Linked DNA regions of Homo sapiens. The protein of the gene in region 2 purifies or fractionates together with the protein of the main gene of each other region. This does not show direct contact. Each region holds a gene or a part of one and is shown on either strand. Other genes may lie near its edges.

The links. Proteins that work in one complex are often made in the same cells at the same time.
Region 1: the proteins of DPYD (region 2) and MICALL2 fractionate together in Homo sapiens (co-fractionation; one large-scale study listed by BioGRID). This does not show direct contact.
Region 3: the proteins of DPYD (region 2) and RPE fractionate together in Homo sapiens (co-fractionation; one large-scale study listed by BioGRID). This does not show direct contact.
Region 4: the proteins of DPYD (region 2) and NLN fractionate together in Homo sapiens (co-fractionation; one large-scale study listed by BioGRID). This does not show direct contact.

What each region holds. Positions count from the first base shown.
Region 1 is NC_000007.14:1,456,063-1,461,657, reverse strand, and holds the start of MICALL2 (MICAL-like protein 2), read left to right. Parts: upstream 1-2,187; 5' UTR 2,188-2,331; coding exon 2,332-2,474; intron 2,475-5,595. UniProt on the Homo sapiens protein: Effector of small Rab GTPases which is involved in junctional complexes assembly through the regulation of cell adhesion molecules transport to the plasma membrane and actin cytoskeleton reorganization.
Region 2 is NC_000001.11:97,591,599-97,596,432, forward strand, and holds part of DPYD (dihydropyrimidine dehydrogenase [NADP(+)]), read right to left. Parts: intron 3,569-4,834; coding exon 3,461-3,568; intron 1,790-3,460; coding exon 1,620-1,789; intron 1-1,619.
Region 3 is NC_000002.12:210,008,412-210,013,245, forward strand, and holds part of RPE (ribulose-phosphate 3-epimerase), read left to right. Parts: intron 1-1,245; coding exon 1,246-1,325; intron 1,326-4,834. UniProt on the Homo sapiens protein: Catalyzes the reversible epimerization of D-ribulose 5-phosphate to D-xylulose 5-phosphate.
Region 4 is NC_000005.10:65,825,768-65,830,391, reverse strand, and holds the end of NLN (neurolysin, mitochondrial), read right to left. Parts: 3' UTR 1,109-4,624; downstream 1-1,108. UniProt on the Homo sapiens protein: Hydrolyzes oligopeptides such as neurotensin, bradykinin and dynorphin A. Acts as a regulator of cannabinoid signaling pathway by mediating degradation of hemopressin, an antagonist peptide of the cannabinoid receptor CNR1.

The DNA.
Region 1 (5,595 bases), on a different chromosome or scaffold from region 2:
AAGCTCTGGGGTCAGCGTGGCAGGGTGCGGCCGGGGAGATGCAGCGTGATAAGCCTGCGGAAAGTCTGATAAGCAACCTGGACTTTATTCGAAGGACAGCCTGGGAGGCTCCCGGCAGGGGAAGGGCTTGGTCAGGCCTTCTAGAAAGATCCCTCGGGCTGCTGGGGAGGGTGGACTGTGGTGGCTGGAGGGGCAGGAGGCAGCCCTGTGGGCAGAGGCGGGGGGACAGGTCGTCTGGATGGGAGGGTGGCAGCCGTGGGCAGTGGGGAGAAAGGACCATTTGTTTGGGGGTGTCCTGGCTCCTGGCTTCGGGGACCCTGGAGGGACATGGTGTGTGAGGTGCTGGTGGGCAAACGTCACAAATGCTGCCTCCCAGCTCACTGGTGCCAGAGGGGGGCCGCGCAGGATGGGCCACGGGGTGACCAGTGAGATGGCTTTTTAAGTGTGCAGTGGTAAAAGTTCACGATAAAAGTGAAACCCAGGCCACCTCCCACACCACTCCTTTTAAGGGAGCTGGGCCCTAACGCCTGTCCACCCCTGTGTCCCCCATCCCCCACTAATTCCCCCCGCCCACTGCCCCGCTGCTTCTGCTTCTTGATCTCTCCCTTCTTTTCCAGCTCTTCCGGTTCTCCTAACCGTTGCCCTGGGAGTCAAGAAAACCCGGTGCCAGGACCGGCTCCGGCTGTGCTGGCACGATATCCCCTGACATCCGCAGGTCAGGGACTGTGGCGGAGCAGCGGTTAGGGCCAGCCACATTCCCAGGCCACAAGGGCTCCCTGCCTAGCAGCTGCTTGCATGCCCCTGGTGACGGGGAGCTCACCACCTACACACAGGCCTCACTGACACTTAGGCAGCTGGCCATGAACACTACGGTGTCTCACCAGGGACCAGCCTCAGAAAAGATCTGGAACAGCACCATTGGCTGGGGTTGGAAGACCTCAGTTTCTCCTCCTCCCAAGGGGCACAGAGAAGCTGCCCTGACTCCCTGCCAGGGGCTACTGCGGGAAAACACCTTCCTTCCTGCAGGCCCTGCCCAGACAAGCCCTGGCCCCACAGCCAGGAGGGTAGGCCCCCCTCACATGGCTGGTGTCAGTGATTCCGCCCTCGTCCAGCCCCCGTGGCCACAGACAAGGTTCCCCAAGGATAACGGGGCCAGGGGCCAGTCTGGGATAATTTAGGGCCCCAGCAGAGGGACTTTCCTTATTTCTTCTGTCACAGCTCAAAGTGGAAAATTGGAACTACCCTGCAAGTCAGCCTGAGGAATCTCCTGCCCCAGGAACAGATCCTGCCCACAGGCCCCCAGAAGAAAAGCACAGGCCAGCTGTGCAACTCCGGCTCCACGGCCCCCTTCCTGGCCTCAGTTTCTCCTCTGGCAATGCCCAGGCCTCACCTCTGCCTTGCCTGGAACCCCCGCTGGCATGTAGCGGCCTGGAAAGAGAAACCAGATGCGGACGTCCTTTGAAACCCTGAAACACAAGGCGCCTCCTGCTCCCCGGGAGGCCGGGCTGCCGAGGGCTGAGGCCCTAGACAGGGCAGGGTGTTCGAGCCTCAGTGTCCCCGTTTGTCAACGGCCTTTCCTGCCTCTTCTCCATGGCGGTGGGGTGAGATGGTGGTGGGAGGTGGGGCGGCGAAAAAGAAAATTCCAGGTCTCCGCAGGGGTCCAGAATGGCAGGACCCCCAAGCAGACCGCGCCCCTTCACCGGTTGGGGGTCTCGGCCCTCAGCGGCGGGGCGGGGCCTGGGGAGGGGCCAGGCGGCGTGGGGCGGGGCCTGTCGGGCGGGACCTGACAGCGTGGGGGCGGGACTTACCAGGAGGCGGGACGTGCCTAGGGCGCGAGCCCGTACTGGGGCCGGGCGGCGTGGGGCGGGGCCTCTCGGGAGGCAAAACCTGGAGGCTGGGGGCGGGGCCTGTCCGGAGTCGGGGCCTGCCTGGAGCGGGAGCCTGTGCCGGGGCCAGGAGGCGTGGGAACGGGGCCTATCAGGAGGCAGGACCCGGCGGCTGGGGGCGGGGCCTGTCGGGAGGTGGGGCCTGCCTGGGCGGGAGCCTATGCCGGGGCTGGGAGGTGTGAGGACGGGGCCTATCCGGAGGCAGGACTTGGCGGCTGGGGGCGGGGCCTACAAGGAGGCGGGGCCGGCGGGGGCGGGGCCGGGCTCGGCTTCTCTTAGGGACCCGGCACTCGTCGCCCTCAGTCCGGCTCAGCTGGGGCTGGGCGCCGTGGGTCTGGCGGTTCCGTAGCGGTCCCAGCGTCTGTCCCGCCGGCCGGGCGGTCGCGGCACAGCCGCGGGAAGGTGTCGGAGGGCGGTTCCGCCGCGCGGCGGGCGCGCCGCCCACATGGCGGCCATCAGGGCGCTGCAACAGTGGTGCCGGCAGCAGTGCGAGGGCTACCGCGACGTGAATATCTGCAACATGACCACGTCGTTCCGCGACGGCCTGGCTTTCTGCGCCATCCTGCACCGCCACCGGCCCGACCTCATGTAAGTCCTGCCTGGCGCCCTTTGATTCTTCTGCTGTTCGGCTGCGCGCTGACACGGGCGGGGAAACTGAGGCCCGGGCGGCTGGGGGATGGGGAGCCGAGGCGTGGGACTGGGCAGGCACAGCCCACCGTGCAGCCCCCCGAGGCTGTCCTCAGTGGCCTCAGTGTGCCCGGACACCGAATGCAGCTGGGCCAGAGCCATGGCATCCCCCGCCCGCCGGCTGAGTCAGACGTGACTCAGGGCGGCTCCTGGGCCCTGGCTTCAGTCCAGTCCCCCTCTGTGTCCCTGGGAAAGGCCAGCAGAGCTGCCTCTTTGGGCCCTCCGAGGCTCTCACTGCCCAGGGGCCTGGCCACCAGATGGGGTCCCTGGATAGCCCTCGTATGGGCACTGACCCTCCCCCAGCCTGTTCAGGCCCCTGGGGGGATGTGGCCAGGGCCACTGTGGGGGAGCGGCCAGTGCAGGGCAGGAAGCCCCCAGACCCCAGGTGCTGCTGCCAGCCGGGCCTCTGAGGCCCCGGGTGATAGGGCCCGAGATGGAGAACAGCCCCCATCTCTGGGAGCAGCAGGAGGTGGCAGGGGTTGAGGACTAGGCTGTCTCTCCCCAGGAGGGTCTTGGCGTGTGTAGCTGGGCAGCTGGCCCTGCCCGTTGCTGAATCTTGGCCCGAGCCTGGACCTGCTCCATTGTTTATTCACTCAGCAAACGCTCTTTGGCTAAATGACTGGGACCAGGCTTGCTGGGACAGAGATCTGTGTGTCGGGGCTGGGGGCCAGACGCTCAGGAAGGGGGGCCCTCAACGGCCACCTGCAGCCCAGGCACCTTCTGGGCAAAGCGTTCTCCTGAGTGTGTTTTTGGTGGGAAGGTCTCGGGGTTGGGAGGAGCCACAGGCAGCACCTGGGGCCTCTGTCAGGCCGCAGCTGTGCAGACCAGAGAACCGAGGCTAAGAGGAGGGGTCCTTGCTCAGGTCACACAGCCCCAGCCCGTTGCGCAGATCCGGGGCTCCTCCCCTGTGCCCCTGGACACTGTCCTGCCAGTCCCACTCTCTGCAGGAAGCTGGGGTCTTGAGCAACAGCCTCGGCCCCTGCTCTGAGGTTGTGACATGCATTCGTGGAGCCACCAGGGGCTTCCATTTGGCGTTTGGGCAGCAGCCGCTCTCCCTCGCCAGGAACGTGCCTCTGTTGCCCTTGCAGGCAGAAGATGCTGGGCACAAGGTGCGTGCTTCCACATGGAAAGCCTGACGCTGAGCTTTGAAGGAGAGGGCCAGGGACCTGGAGACTGGGAGAAGGACCCGGAATGGGGAGGAAGGCAGGCGAGACCCCACCCCCGGGGCTGCAGGGTCCTGGATGAGGCTGGCTGGTGGCTGAGCCCAGGCATCCAAGCTGGGGCCAGCCCGAAAAGCCTCTGGGGTGGGGAGAGGCGTTGCCACCGGCTGCTGGCCACCAGCTTCATGGATCACTGGTGTCGCCGGAGATTTGGGGCCCTCTGGTCCTGGGGAGCTTCTCTGTACTCCCTGCCGGCTCAGACGTGCCTGTGGGCAGTGCCCAGGGTGAGCACAGGTGCATGTGCATGCACTGGCACGGTGGTCGCTGTGTATCTCCTCAGTGCACTGACAGTTATTGAGTACCTGCTGTGTACCCAGCACTGAGTCCTGTGCCAGTTCCCCTCAGCCTCCAGATGCAGGGAGCAATGTTCCGGTCACAGAGACAGACAGGGAACAGGTAAATGAATAAAAGCCCAGGGTGGCTCCAGAGAGTGCAGAGGCCAGAACAGGAAGGAGGCGGGAGAGAGAGGAGGCCCTCTGCCCCCAGCTCCGGTGGGTGTGGAGTTACCCAAGCTGTGGCTGACTTGGTTCTGTCCCCACTGGACTGTCAGCTCCAGAGGGTGGGGGCTCTGTTTTGTTCACTGCTGCACCCCTGGTGCCTGGAACTGGGCTCGGTAGATACCAGCACATGGTTGGAGTTCTGCAGATAAGGGCCTTTCAGTTGGGGTTCAGTAGATATGGTAGGAGCTTAGTAGGTGCCCACGTGCAGAAGGACAGAGGAGAAGGCCATGTGCCCTTGGAGGCAGAGATCAGAGAGGTGCAGCCACAAGCCAAGGGTGTCCTGGGCTGGAAGAGGCAGGAAGGACCCTCCCCGAGAACCTCCTTAGGCAGCAAGGCCCAGCCCACACCTTGATGTCGGAGTCCGGCCTCCAGAGCCGTGAGAAAACAAATTCCTGGTGTTTTAAGCCCCAGAGTTTGTGGCAATTTGTTACGGCAGTAGGAAGAAGCTAGTACAGGCTTCCATGGGTGTTGGGGCGTGGGGGCCTCTGTAGACCCTGGCTGATGGAAAACCCGGAGTGTCATGGGGGTCGGGTGTGCACCAGGGTGTGGGGACATGCGCTTGTATGGGTGCCTGGGCCCTTTGCTTTTATTCCAGAGTTGGAGTCTCGCTCTGTCGCCCAGGCTGGAGTGCAGTGGCACCGTCTTAGCTCACTGCATTCTTGAACACCTGGACTCAAGCAATCCTCCCACCTCAACCTCCCGAGTAGCTGGGACCATGCCTGGCTAATTTTCTTATTTTTAATTTAATTTTATCTATTTATTTATTTATTTATTTATTTGAGACAGAGTCTAGCTCTGTCGCCCAGGCTGGAGTGCAGTGGTGCGATCTCAGCTCACTGCAACCTCCGCCTCCCAGGTTCAAGTGATCCTCCTGCCTCAGCCTCCCAAGTAGCTGGGGTTAAAGGGGTGCACCCCCACACCCAGCCGATTTTCATATTTTTTCTAGAGACGGGGTTTTGCCATGTTGGCCAGGCTGGTGTGTAACTCCTGACCTCAAGTGATCCATCTGCCCTCTTCAGCCTCCCAAAGTTCTGGGGTTATGGGCGCGAGCCACTGCGTCTGGCCTGTGTCTGGCTACTTTCACTCAGCATATTGTTTCTTTTTTAAATTGAGATGGGTTCTGGCTATATTGCCCAGGCTGGTCTTGAACTCCTGGCCTCAAGTAATCCTCCTGCCTCAGCCTCCCGAAGCGCTGGGATTACAGATGTGAGCCGCCGCGCCTGGCCCCTGGCTCTTTGGACGTGCCTGCCTCTGTGCCTTCATCACCCCCATCCCGTGCCCTCAGCCTCTGCTCCCTGCCGT
Region 2 (4,834 bases):
TGCAAATGGAAGATGACTATGATATAAAATGTGAAGTAAATTGATATTGCCAATCAGTGTCATCTTCCCCTTCCAACCCTCAAGAAGTCACCTTTGGTAATGAAACTTTTCTAACATTGGAATCAGAAGGATAAGACTTAATATTTAAAATGTTTAGTTCAAAACCTATTTCTCAAGTACAAACTATGTGCCAGGTCCTGTGCTATGCACAGGAATACAAAGATCAAAATGTTTCTTTCTATGTGTAAAAAAAAACCATGATTACACTAATTATTGCCTAAGACTGTATCCCAGGAAAAAAAAAAAAGAAACCTATGATCATAAAAACTACCTTGGATTTTATAAAAAAGTCTAAAAAGGGTAGATTGGATGGAGAAAAGTCCAGATAATAAACGTGGAATTTGAAACTCAGCCATGAACCAATGGTGACCCTGATATTTTGGTAAGATTAATTTGTAATGTGGGTAATCTACATATGACAAATTACCTATTGACTACAGCTATAATTCTTGCCTAGTATAGAGACTCCAAACACATTCAGGCATTCCGAAGCAAGTCAAGTTCATAATACTGATTTGATTTAAATGAGTAATTTATCTTTCTATAAATACATTTGGTTCTTGTTCTCAGAACTAATATTCTTTATAAGGTATTATATTTCTCTAATAGCATTAAAATTTGAGAAGTGTGTAGTACATGTAAATAGCCGATACCTCACCCAAGACTACTCACCAGTCACTGGTAAGAATGAAATGATTTTAAACATGTTATTATTACTATTTTTTTGAGACAGAGTCTCTCTCTGTCACCCAGGCTGGAGTGCAGTGGCACGATCTGGGCTCACTGCAAGCTCCGCCTCCCGGGTTCACGCCATTCTCCTGCCTCAGCCTCCTGAGTAGCTGGGATTACAGGCGCCCACCACCACGCCCGGCTAATTTTTTTGTATTTTTAGTAGAGACGGGGTTTCACCGTGTTAGTCAGGATGGTCTTGATCTCCTGACCTTGTGATCCGCCGGCCTCAGCCTCCCAAAGTGCTGGGATTACAGGCGTGAGCCACCGCGCACAGCCAAACGTTATTTTTAGTATGCTAACTAACTACTAATTTTGAGTAGTGCTTATATTAGAGCACTTTAAAAATATACATGACACCCTTTTCTTTCTATTTGCTTCACAAATAATGAACTGACTGAAAGTATGACCAAGGTATACATCTTAGAATGCAGTCTGTAAATTGGCTTACGGAAAATTCCGTATGTGTCTTATTACCACATTCTTCTAATATGCATACATTTTGTGAAGAGTACCTACTATTCAGGATATGGAAGACTTAGCACTTTACATTGTTACTAGTTACATAGAATACATTTCAAGCATATTAACACTAACAAGAAGCCCTTGAGTATTGACAAAGATTAAATTTCTCATTTTACCCAAATCAGTATTACAAATTTTCTTTTACTTGGAATGTCTGAATTAGAAAAGAAACAATTATGTGTAGCCCTGAAATTTTTAAACTTGAATTTGACAATTTCAACATTCTAGCGATTTAAACATTAACAGTTTCATCTCCTAAAATCTGTTGGAGTACAACTCCATATTTTCTGATGGTTCCATTTTACCTCCTCAGGGACAGCTCTTATATTAACAAAGCCTTTTCTGAAGACGATGAACACACGGCGAGCTCCACAACGTAGAGCAGATGTTGCACAGTCAAAGGCAGTGTCTCCAGCTCCAAGTACAATCACGACTCCCCGTATCGATGGCAATGGAGAGTGACAGGCGCACATTCCTGAATGATGAAAGGAAAACCCCATTTTCAAGTAGAGAAACCATTTCTGCATGACAGCTCAAAAGATACTTGTACTCAAAGCAGTGTAAAATTGCATCTTGCAGTTTTCCAGGATGAAGTGTCACTATCAAATTATTCTGCTTCATTGAAAGACAGTTTTATTCCCATTTTAAAAATATGCTCATATATGTAATTTCATAGTCAGTATCTTTAGTTTCTTTTTTCTTCTAGGATTCCTACAACACATTTTGAGAAGTTTAGGTCATAACAGACTGGAATCAATCAATTAAAACTCTCTTCATCAAAATTGTGCTATCTATCTTTAACTCAGCATAATTTTCCTTTTGCTAGAAGAAAAAAGTGATCCTTATGATCTGTGTTAACGGTTTGCAATATTTCATTATAATACTTTTTTATGTATTACCTTATATAATTTCTAACACATACCTCTGTTATATATTTTGTTAACTTTGAATATTAACGTGCTGAATAAGTGTCCTTTATGTAACTGAAGAATTTCTGAGAACTATTTTCTTGAAATAGTTCAAATAAATCTTTCTCCCTTTCACTGCTTTCCTCTGGTTTTGTTTGTGAAACTGGGCAGTAAAAGAAATATGACTTTCTAAGCATCCATTTCTCAAGGTCATCTCTATTAAGATTTGCTGTCCATATGAAGATCCTTGTAAAAAAAGTAAAATGCAAGTATTCCTTATGTGTTAGGTAGCAGTGTATAATAAGATTAAATAAAACTGTTTATAAGATCAATTACTATAATTTTTTAAATGGTACCAAGAATAGAATAAACCTATAATTTCAATAAGTGTAATCATTTTGCTTGGAAGATTTTGTATTTGGGACACTCTGTAATTTTCAAATACAAGCTAGGTGCACTATGACCTTCCTCAGAAAGGGTTTCAGACATACAAACATCCAGTTCTACTGAGAGGCAGAAGGTGGAGAGGGTATGCATCTTTAGCTGTAAACTTCTGAAGAATAATTTAATATAGAAAGTTTCTTACTGTTTTAAGTCCTGGGAGAAGCATAAAAGTTTGTATCATTTCTACATGTAATTAATGTAGGAATAGCTGTGGCTCAGACCTCTTTAAAAATATACATTTGAAGGATTTAGATTATCTGACTTTGGATAAAATATTACAATTTTCCCCAAAGACAATGACTCTGGTCAGGCCAAACCAAGGTACAACCTTCATTCAGGTGGTTCTTCTTGGGGTGTATAAAGTGATAGGGTGTCTATCAAAGTATTTTATTTTAACATCATAAAATTACTGTTTAAGAGAAGACAGTCAATCTTTCTGCCTGTGTAGATACAAATCATATAAGATATGTGACGATTCATGCCATTTCTTTGAAAAACATCTTCCAATGTTTGTTAAGGACTTGCTTACCTTGAAGCAATTTTTCATGATGTAGTTTAGACATATATATTACAGTGAAAATTCCTTACGATGATACTTTATTGGAAGAATGAACAAACAGATGATTCTGGCAAACTGTTATACCCGGCCTTTTTTTTTTTAATTTTACATTTGGGTCTTAGGCAAGGTTGGGTGTGAGAGCTGAACAATGTGCTGCTGAGCTTGATTTTGATATTAATTTATCATAAATAAAATAGCATACTCACTATTAAGCATAAAAGACAATATGTTATACCTGCTTTACTGCCTTTGGCTACAAGTGGCAAAAAGTCTTTGGATGTATAAAACCCCTGGTCCTGCGTCAGGCCTTGGAAGATGGCATCTTTATTGGGTTCTGGCAAACCTAAGTAATCAAATTTATAAAATATCATTAGCAGGAGGAGGGGCTTTTCCTATTAGATATTAAAACAAAAAAGAAAACTTTAATCTTTGAAATAATGTCATTCTTAGAGGAAAACATCTGTAAGCAAATCAATATAAAATGTACATAATACAGTCTAACGGATCTCAGAGTATATTATGTATATCTTTAATATATAACCAAGTACACATCGTAAATCACACATTAATGTATACCTATAAATATATGGAAACATATGTATATACACACATAAACATATATAACATTACAGGGAAAATCAGGTTATATTCTTGCCTCATATCATAAATAAGTCAGTTTCAGCTACATTAAAGTACTAAATATAAAAAAAGTTAAAAATGGGTACATATTTATCTAATTCCTGAATAAGTAAAATCATTTCTTTTTTAATGAAAGAAAAAAATTAAAGGAAAAAACAATGTATTTTGCCACAATAATTCAACCACTGCTAAATTTAAAAAATATAAATGAATTAAAACGAAAATTATTAACCAAGAAGATGTTTTAATAATTAAATGTCTTTACTGTATAAATTCTCCAAATCAGTAAGGAACATATTAGCTTTTCAATGGAAACATAAAGAATAATAAAAATTGGGAGAAGAAAAAATATAAATCACCTATAAGCACTAAAAATATTAACTCCATTAAGTCATTAAACTGCAAATTAAAAGAATAAAATTGTAACTTCTCTATAAAAAGAAAAATATTTAAGAAAATTAAACTATACACCAAGGGTAGACATGGAACTTGTCATACTCTTTCAGTGGAAATATACATTGGTGTTCAATATCTAGAAAATAGTCTTAAATCTATCTTAAGAAAATACTGACACATGCAAATAAAGGTTTAATGCACAAAAATGATTAATACAGAAAGAGGAAAATAAGATGAGAGAGTACCAGAATGTCAGGTAAATGAAGAAATTAGTTTTACCGTATAAAAGAAAAAGACAACAGAACGAATATTTGAGAAATATGGTATAAGATTGTAATCAAAATACAGTCTTAAATGAACCTGCAGGATTCAAAACTCTGTATAGTATAATTCAAATTTTGTAAAAAAATGTATTAATATAAACCATGTAATCTAAACAGAGATCATTTAGAGTGGTGGTATTAAGGATATTCCAATTTTTATTATTTCCTTATTTTCCAAATTTTCTACATTGTACATATATCAACTATAAATTAGTAAATTCTTACCAAAACTTTGAAAGGAAAATAAATGG
Region 3 (4,834 bases), on a different chromosome or scaffold from region 2:
CAGCCTCCTGAGTATCTGGGATTATAGACGCACGCCACCACACCCAGCTAATTTTTATATTTTTAGTAGAGACGGAGTTTCACCATGTTGGCCAGGCTGGTCTTGAACACCTGCCCTTGTGATCTGCCACCTTGTTCTCCCAAAGTGCTGGGATTACAGGTGTGAGCCACCATGCCCGGCCCCGGTTTTGTTAAAGATTTAAGTGAACTAGTGATAGAACAAAAAGATTAACTGGAGTAGGGTAAAGGATAAGTACCGTGGGTCTGGTAGACTTGATTTGTTTTTGTTTTTGTTTTCGTTTTTGAGGTAAGTCTCGCTTTGTCGCCCAGGCTGGAATACAGTGGCACGATCTTGGCTCACTGCACCCTCCACCTCCCAGATTCAAACGATTCTCCTGCCTCAGCCTGCCTAGAAGCTGGGATTACAGGTGCATGCCACCACTCCCAGCTAATTTTTGTATTTTTAGTAGAGACAGGGTTTCACTATGTTGGCCAGGCTGGTCTTGAACTCCTGACCTCAAGTGATCTGCCCGCCTCAGCCTCCCAAAGTATTGGGGTTACAGGCGTGAGCCACTGTGCCTGGCTGGTAGACTTAATTTGAATCCACTTCCACAAATTATTAACTGAGTTACTTAAGGATTTTATTTATCTTGTGCTCTTCAAAGGGGATAATAATAGCATCTACTTTGTAAGGCTGTCGTGAAGATGAAATGAAGTAAATTACGATGCTTGGCATGTAGTAAACCCTCGGTGAAAGGTGGTCGTTACTAATAAACACATCATGTTTCTTTATTAGTCATCTTTAAGAAAGTTTAAAGAAACTGTCATTTAGTGCCTTGTGATAGAAGTGATTAGAAGTAGCCACAGGCCTCCTGAGATAGACTAGGATTCAGGAGATCAATATTAGAGTCCAGAACTTACTAACTAGTGTGTGACTTGGGCAAGTCATAAAGCCTGAGGGTTTCTGATTTTATCATCTCTCCATTTCTACTTGTCATGGGTCGTGAATTACGGAGTCAAATCATTATGAAAATATATGTGACGTGATTTGTTGAAATGTCAAGGAGACATTGCCTAGTAAAACCAAAATGACCCATTATTTTTAGTATTATTTAATACTGATGATTAAGTATTAAATTGAAAAACATTGCAGACAATCCCCTCAACCTGTGTCAGAATTCATATTGAGAGAGATACAGAAACTGAATTGAAAACATTTTCAGAGTAGATTTTGTTTGTCTTGTAGGCATTTTGTTCCCAACATCACCTTTGGTCACCCTGTGGTAGAAAGCCTTCGAAAGCAGCTAGGCCAGGACCCTTTCTTTGGTAAGTGGGTGTTACGCCATCTGAAGCTGGATGTGTTGCTCAAGTAAAGGAAAACTGGATGGTTGATTTTAACTTCCAAGTTCATCTGGCACCCTTTCCCCAACTTTCCTATCCTGGGTCTTCATTGGCCTGACTCCAGTAACAAGCCAAACTTCTTCCTGCCTCTGGGCCTTGGCTAATCTGCATGGAAAGGTAGTAGCTTGGCTGGCTGCCTCATCTTTGGGCCTCAAGTCATTTGTCATTTCCTCAGAGAGGCCTTTTTGAGCGTCCTCTCCCAAATTAACCTTTATCCAATTATCTTATCACCTGTTGATTTTCCTCTGAGAACTTCCTTTGATCTGCGATTACTTTTATTAGACTATAAACTCTCTGAGGGCGGGGATTGAATCCAGTTTGTTTACTGTGGTTTTCCTAAAGCTAAGCATAGACATGATCAGGGCTCAGTGTAATTGTTAAGTGAATTTATGAATCAGTTGATTTATGGTCCAGAAGCCATTTATTTTGTGCAAATTGGAGCTTTCTACAAGTGGTGCCTAAATATTCACTCCAATGTCCTAGTACAATGTAAATTAAGATTTTTAAGATTACTTAGTGGCCTACAAGTGATTTATGTTAAGTTAGCAATGTCTCACCTGCCAGATCTCTTAAACATGAGAAATTTTACACATTTTTATAAATAGTGTTATTTATTTTTTTCTTTTTTTTAAAATAGAGACTGAGTTTCGCCATGTTTCCCGGGCTAGTCTCAAACTCCTGGGCTCAAGCAATCCACCTGCCTTGGCCTCCCAAAGTGCTAGGATTACAGGCTTGAGCCACCAGCCTAGCCATAAATAGTTTTTTTAACGTAGCTTACAATTTAGTAGAACTTAGATTCTTTTTAATCAGCATATTGCTGACCAGTTTTATGAAGGACTCTGTGCTGTTCACTATGGTAGTCATAAGCCACATGTAGCTATTAAAATTAAATAAACTTAAGTTCATGACCAGAATGGCCAACATGGTGAAACCCTGTCTCTACTAAAAATTCAAAAATTAATCAGGCGTGGTGGCAAACACCTATAATCCCAGCTACTCAGGAGGCTGAGGCATGAGAATCACTTGAACCTGGGAGGTGGAGATTGTAGTGAGCTGAGGTCATTCCACTGCACTCCAGCCTGAGTGACAGTGTGACACTCCATGTCAAAAAAAAAAAATTTTTTTTAAATTAAATAACATAAACTTAAAAATTCGGTTTCTTATTCACGTTAATCACATTGCAAGTCTTCAGTAGTCACATATTGTACAGTGCAGCTATGGGACATTTCCAATATCACAGAAAATTCTGTTGAATATAGTCTCCAGCCTCTGTGTAGGATCTATCTACTTTGAGTTCACCAAAGAAAATGTACATTATTACCTCATTTATGTGGCATGAGGAAACAATGTTCCACCAATATATTCACCATTTTGAAATTTCCATATAATGGGATATAGTCCTCTGATTATCTAAACTTTCTTTTAAGCCATGATTAGCTTATATAGCAGATACCGTGACTTTTCCTATGAATTACGGTTGTTCTCATGACCATGAGAGGTAGATGAAATAAATAGCATTGTTTTCTCCCACTGTACAACCAATGGCCAGAATCCTCGCTTCTGGCTTGCTTGTGTGAATTTTTTTAATGCTTGCTTTTTTTCCCCTTTTCGCTCCCTTTTATTTGGGCTCCCATTGTCACACCATACTATTGTCTATATCCCTTCCTGTCAGTGCCTTTCCTTTTAGCAATCCTGTGTTGCTGCCACCACACACAATCTGCTTTTTCTTCTTGTTTTTAATTTGTTGATAAACTTGCTAATTAATCTTTCTAGAATTTGGTCTAAAAGATAAATGAACTCCATTCACTTTAATGTTTGGGTTTTGTGACCCTTGTTTTTTGGTTTTTCGCTTTTTGTTGTTGTTGTTGTTGTTGCTTTAAGAGACAGACTCCGTCTATTACCCAGGCAAGAGTACAGTGGTACAGTCATAGCTCACTGCATCCTTGAACTCCTGGGCTCAAGCAATCCTCCCGCCACAGCTATAGCTAAGACTACAGGTGTGTGCCACCACAACCGGCTATTTTTTTTTTTTTTTTTTTTTTTTACTTTTTGTAGAGATGGGATCTCCCTGTATTGCCCAGGCTAATCTTGAATGCTTGGGCTCAAGCCATCCTCCTGCCTTGGCTTCCCAAAGTGTTGTGATAGTAGGTGTAAGTCACTGAGCCCGACTACCTTTGTTTTTTATATTGAGAAACATTTGTTTAATTCTTGGATTTTGGTTGTTGGATAATTGATACATGAATGTATTCTAGGACCTAGATTACATGTTGTGTTGTATATGTAACGCTAACATTCTTAACTGTTCAGTTTTCATATTGAGTAGAAATAAATGTCTAAGAAATACAGTGATGGGAAAAGTCTGTTCCTGTTATTGTCTAAATCAGTGATCCTCAAGTATGTTGTATAAGGACCCACACAAATCCTTAAGACCCTTTCGGGTCATCCATGAGAGTATATCAAAACTATTTTCATAATCCTAAGAAATTATTTGCCATTATTTCTACTGATGGTACAAAAACATTGATGAGTTAGTTTGCTGGTGCCTTAACCAACTCAAGGCAGGGACTGTATCAGGAGTTATTCTTCATCATCATGCATTTGCAATAAATATCCTTGATGAAGCAGTAGAAATTAATAAATCTTGGTCCCTGAATACATGCCTTTTTAATATTTTGTGTGGCAAAGTAGGAAGTGCATATAAAGTGCTTGTGCTGCATTGCTGCATACTGGAACATAATGGTTTTCTCAAGGAAAACCACTTGCACCATAGAGGTGTGATCTGAACTAGCTGCTTTCCTCCAGAACACTATGTTTGTTTGAAAGAACAACTGACAGATCAACTATGGTTTTTCAGACCTGGCTATTTTAATGACATTTAAAAAATATTAACTAAATGAGGCTGTCTCTTCAAGGAAAGATACCTTGTCAGTTTTTGTTCCCAAAATTAGAATTTTAAAAAACTTGTGTATCTTACCACTCTGGGTTTGATAGCGTCCCAACAGTTAACAAGCTTTTCTGATGAGATCTGTAGTTATTTTACCAAATGTGATTTTGGGGTACTATGGAATGAAATCTGTCACTATTTGTAAGATGTGTGTAACTCAGTAAATCAGTACTTAAAAGACCCATTCAAAATACAAGACAAACAATGGGTTTTAATGTAACAAAGAATGAAAAGCTCATTGATAGGGTTTACAGAGTGCACACTGCAGCTAACCTTTATAAAATTACCACCCAGCACATTTAAGATAGGCTAGGCTAAGCTATGATGTTTGGTGTGTTAGGTATATTAAATGCAGTTAGAGATAACAGTATTTTCAATTTAGATTGAGTTAATTGGGATGTAACCCCATTGTAAGTTACAGAACATCTGTATTACAACAGATTAGATACAGAACAGATGTGAGAATATAGGTGTCTTCTGTTAAGCCAGA
Region 4 (4,624 bases), on a different chromosome or scaffold from region 2:
AAGATCTCATCTCAAAAAAAAAGTTGCTGGGAACAGGAAGTAAGAAATCTTGACTAATCTGGACCATCTCTAAACAACTCAGTGATTATTTTAACAACCTGTTTTCTAGACTTATAGGATGTACCAATGCCTCTTGGCTATCTAATACATATCAGCTTAAAAGGGGTCCCACATCATTCTTCTAATGGCTGTCAATTTATAACCACTTGCACAAAAGTGGCAAAGTGAACATTTTCATCTCTTTTTTATAAGCCCTTTAACTACCAGATCTAAGAAACTCCTGGATATACCAGATATAGAACACCATTTGGTCCCACTCCTGAAATGCTGAAAAGAGAAAAGCAATTATTTTGTTAAAAATAGAAGCCTGCGGTGGCAGGTGGCGTGGTAACTATGTAAAATTTTGTGGCACCACAGTCAAATTGTATAGTGGAGTCAACCAGGGTTGAGGGGAAAACACAGAAAAGTTTTGGATACATGCCTTTCTATTATAATTTATCCCAATAAATTATGAACTCATTTGCCTTCTCCACTCCACTGTGAGCAGCTCCAGTTCTGGGGTGTCTTTTTGTATCCTCATTGCCAAGCACAGCGCCTGACACATAATGGGCACGTTAGAGTCTTTGAAATGAATTCAAAAAACAAATGTTTGAAAGCACATTTTTAAAGACAGTAGTTCTTAATTTCTTCTGATTAAAGCTAAGGACTCTATCCCTAGAAAAATGCAGGTATCCATGCACACGAACATATCTAATATAATTTCAGGGCAATCATGGGACATCTGCTTGCTCTGCCCTTTTCATAGACCCCCCAAGAAAACCAGATGAACAAATTCCGAGGTTTCAATACATAATCATAGGGAGAAGCTGAGAAGCTTTAGAAACGTTCTCCATTGCCAATTTTTTTCTTTTCTTTTTTTTTTTTTTTACAAAAAACATGTTTCTTTCATTTACCTCATGCAGAAACTCTCAGTACACTAAGAAAGGACTCTCATGTAGAAATCTGCCCCCCGCAGGTGTAGAAATAACTTATCCACATAGTTTTAGGTTTAGTTACAAATTAGGTATTTTGCAGTTACCATAGAAAAAGGCATCTTTATAACAAAAGATAATTTTAAAGAAGGTATATTTATTTAACAAACATGTATGAACTATTCATTAACAATCCAGGACTGTGGAGGACAGGGGACAGAAACAAGCCTCGAAGAGATCACAATATGGTGGAGTGCATGCATGGCACACCTGGCTATCTGAATCAGACGTTTGCCTCTGTGTGTGTGATGAAGACAGTAGTGAGTGGAATGGACAGAGAGTAACTGTAAATTCTGTAGGGAGGAAAACGAACGTTTACTCATTCTCTAACAGTCTTTTGCTTTACTATGGTCATATACAACAGTTAATCTCCCATCCTCAGTTCCCAGATACCCACCAGAAAACCGGTAATTAACCTCTGGATAAACTTTCACTGATTACAGATGAGGAGCGAGGCAACCTTAAGCCATAAACAATATTCCTACAGTATGGGGGAGCCGCAATCATCTGAATGCCAGTTTTCAGAGCCAGCCTGTGAACGTTTCATCTGAGGGATGTTTTCCCGATGATCATCTTATCATTATCGCATCTTAAAAGCTGGAGAAGCCCTAAAAGCCGGTTTGGCACAAATGTCAACTCAAGGGAGGAATGCCCTCTGTAACACTCCTGGCAGCTACAGGCTTTCCACAGCAGCGGAATGTATTTTTAACCAACAAAAAGTATTAGAAACAGCTTCCTCGTACTGAACTAAATCCTCCTCATATTTTCCAACCGTTTCTCTAATGGAATTTAATTGTTTCCATTTGGTTTCTGAAGCAATACAGAATTAGCCTATTCTCTCTCCCATTTCCTTCAAGAATTTGAAAACAATTATCATCTGTATTTCTGAATTATCTCCAGACTGAACTTCCCTAATTCTTTTTTATTTTTCTTTTGAGAAGTATTTTCAAAGTTATCACCATCTTGTTACTGCTCCTGCAAACACTGTACTACTTGGCCAAAGTCTGCTTAAAATGTGATATCTAGAAAGGAACACAATATTCCAACAGTAATTGATCTTACACTGGAGTCCGGGGGGATTATTCTTTTGATCTAGGCACATACTTCCATCAACACATTCTTAAAAAGCCTTAGTTCTCGCCTCCCGTCCCCCTCCCCCGGTGTGCTGTACCATGAGCTGATATTGGAATTTGGCCAAATAAAACTGCCAACTCTTTTTTCCTGAATACTACTATCAAGTCAGGCTTCCCCTTCTTTTACCTGGGTAATGGAATGTGTCTAATTTCATTTTGAGCTTGTCTCCACATTGAAATATTTTTAAACATTATTATTTTTTTACTTTTGAGACAAGAGTTTCACTCTGTTGCCCAGGCTGGAATGAAGCGGCACAATGTCGGCTCACTGCAACCTCCACCTCCGGGGTTCAAATGATTCTTCTGCCTCAGCCTCCTGAGTAGCTGGGAGTACAGGCATGTGCCACAACACCTGGCTAATTTTTGTATTCTTTAGTAGAGACGGGTTTCGCCATGTTGGCCAAGCTGGTCTTGAACTCCTGAACTCAGGTGATCCACCCATCTTGGCATCCCAAAGTGCTGAGATTACAGGCGTGACCCACCTTGCCCGGCCAAAATAATTTTAGATGTTAATAACATCATCATACTTAATAATTCCAGCCCTATTATCTGTACATTTGATACCTTTTTATGGGACTTTTTTTTCATTTTTAGCCAAATGACTTGAAATTACTCCCAGTTTAACGTTAATCATCATGCAACTATCTCAGACTGTTTCAATAGCTAGTAATCCACCTGGATAACTATTATCCAGTCACATTCTCCATCTTAGCCACAAAGATATCAACAGCAATGCGTGTCTTGCTGGACGCAATGAACAAACTATTTCTAGCCAGTTTCTCTCATGACAAATGCTAGAGACATTTTATCATAGGAGTACAATTGAGGTGAGCCTCTGGGGTCTATGAAATATGCAGCTAGTACAGGTTCCAGCTCATGTGAGCAGAATAAGGGAGTCTATTTCCTGTTCACCCCTTCCCCTTGTACGTACATCGTGGACTAGATGTGTTGAACCTGTATTTTCTCAGGAAAGGGAACTACAAGGTGAATTCAACCAAATCAAAACTCAGGAATCACGGTGTGGTGTGGGGGTGTGTGCATCGCTGTGTACATTACCTCAATTTTTCAAATTTTGTTTTGTTACAGACGTACAGCATTATTGTGTTTGTTAAAAAAGGCTATTTTGGTCTAATATTTACATCTTATAACCTTTACCTTTTGCCTTGATACAGCTGATACTAGATAATCACTTAGGTGGATCTGTTTCCAGTGGGAAATTTCTCTATTAAAGGTGACTCAAAAAATAAACTTTTTGGACGTTGACTGTTTTTCGAAGAACTGAGGGTATGTATGTCTTTCCTTTTCCTTTTTTTTTTATTTTATTTTAAGACAGGGTCTCTGTCACCCAGGCTGGAGTGCAGTGGCGTGATTATGGCTCATGGCAGCCTTGACCTTCTTGGGCTCAAGCAATCCTCCCACCTCAGCCTCCCAAGTAGCTGGGACTACAGGCATGTGCCACCATCCCTAGCTAATTTTTTTAGTTTTTGTAGAGACAGGGTCTCACTGTGTTGCTCAGGCTGGTCTCAAACTCTTGAGCACAAAGGATCCTCCTGCCTCAACCTTCCAAAGTGTTAGGATTACAGGTGTGAGCCACCACATTCATTTCTTTGTTGCTTTTATTCTCACCACACATTTATAAGAGAAGGCATGTTCAATTTCAGTGGGCTATCCAATTTCAGATGGGAGACATCTAACTGTAATGTGTTGATTTGAGGGAAGAAGCTGTGGTCACTGCATCTATTCAAATAAAATGGATTTTCTCTTTTAACATTCTTTGGGGGCTCAGTTAACTATGTTTAAACCCTATTTGAGGAATCAGTATTCGTTATGGACTGAATGTTTGTGCCCCATCCCCTACATTGAAGCCGTAACAGCCAATGTGATGGGGTTAGGGGGTGGGGCCTTTGTTGGGGGTGACTGGGTTTAGATAAAGTCATGAGGAAGGAACTCTCATGATGGGATTCCTGCTCTCGTAAAAAGAGACACTCTAGGGCTTGCTCCCTGCCACTGCTGCCTGCAGAAGTTTCTAAACCCTTTATGTTCCACATCTGCCTCCTGTCTCTTCCCATGGCTCTCTACAGAGCTATTTGTAACATGTCTACCTGACACTTTTGGGGATGTGGTCAGTAAAAGAGGAAGAGGGGCCTCACCACGAACCAAATTTACCAGCATGTGGATTGTGGGACTTCCCAGCTTCCAGAACTGTAAGAAATGTCTGCTTTTGAAGCCACCCAGTCTGATATTTTGTTATAGAAGCCTGAAGTATGATGGTATTTTAATGTAAATTTTAATGTAAATTTTAATCCACCTGTGTATGATAGAAAATGAATAAATGGTAAACACACACTGGCCTAGTGGGGAGGCAGAATCTCCACAGACCTATAATTCATACATAAAAGCTAAAGGTAAAATGGTAAAGTAGAAAATTGAGTCACTGCCTGCTACTTAAGGCATTTACAA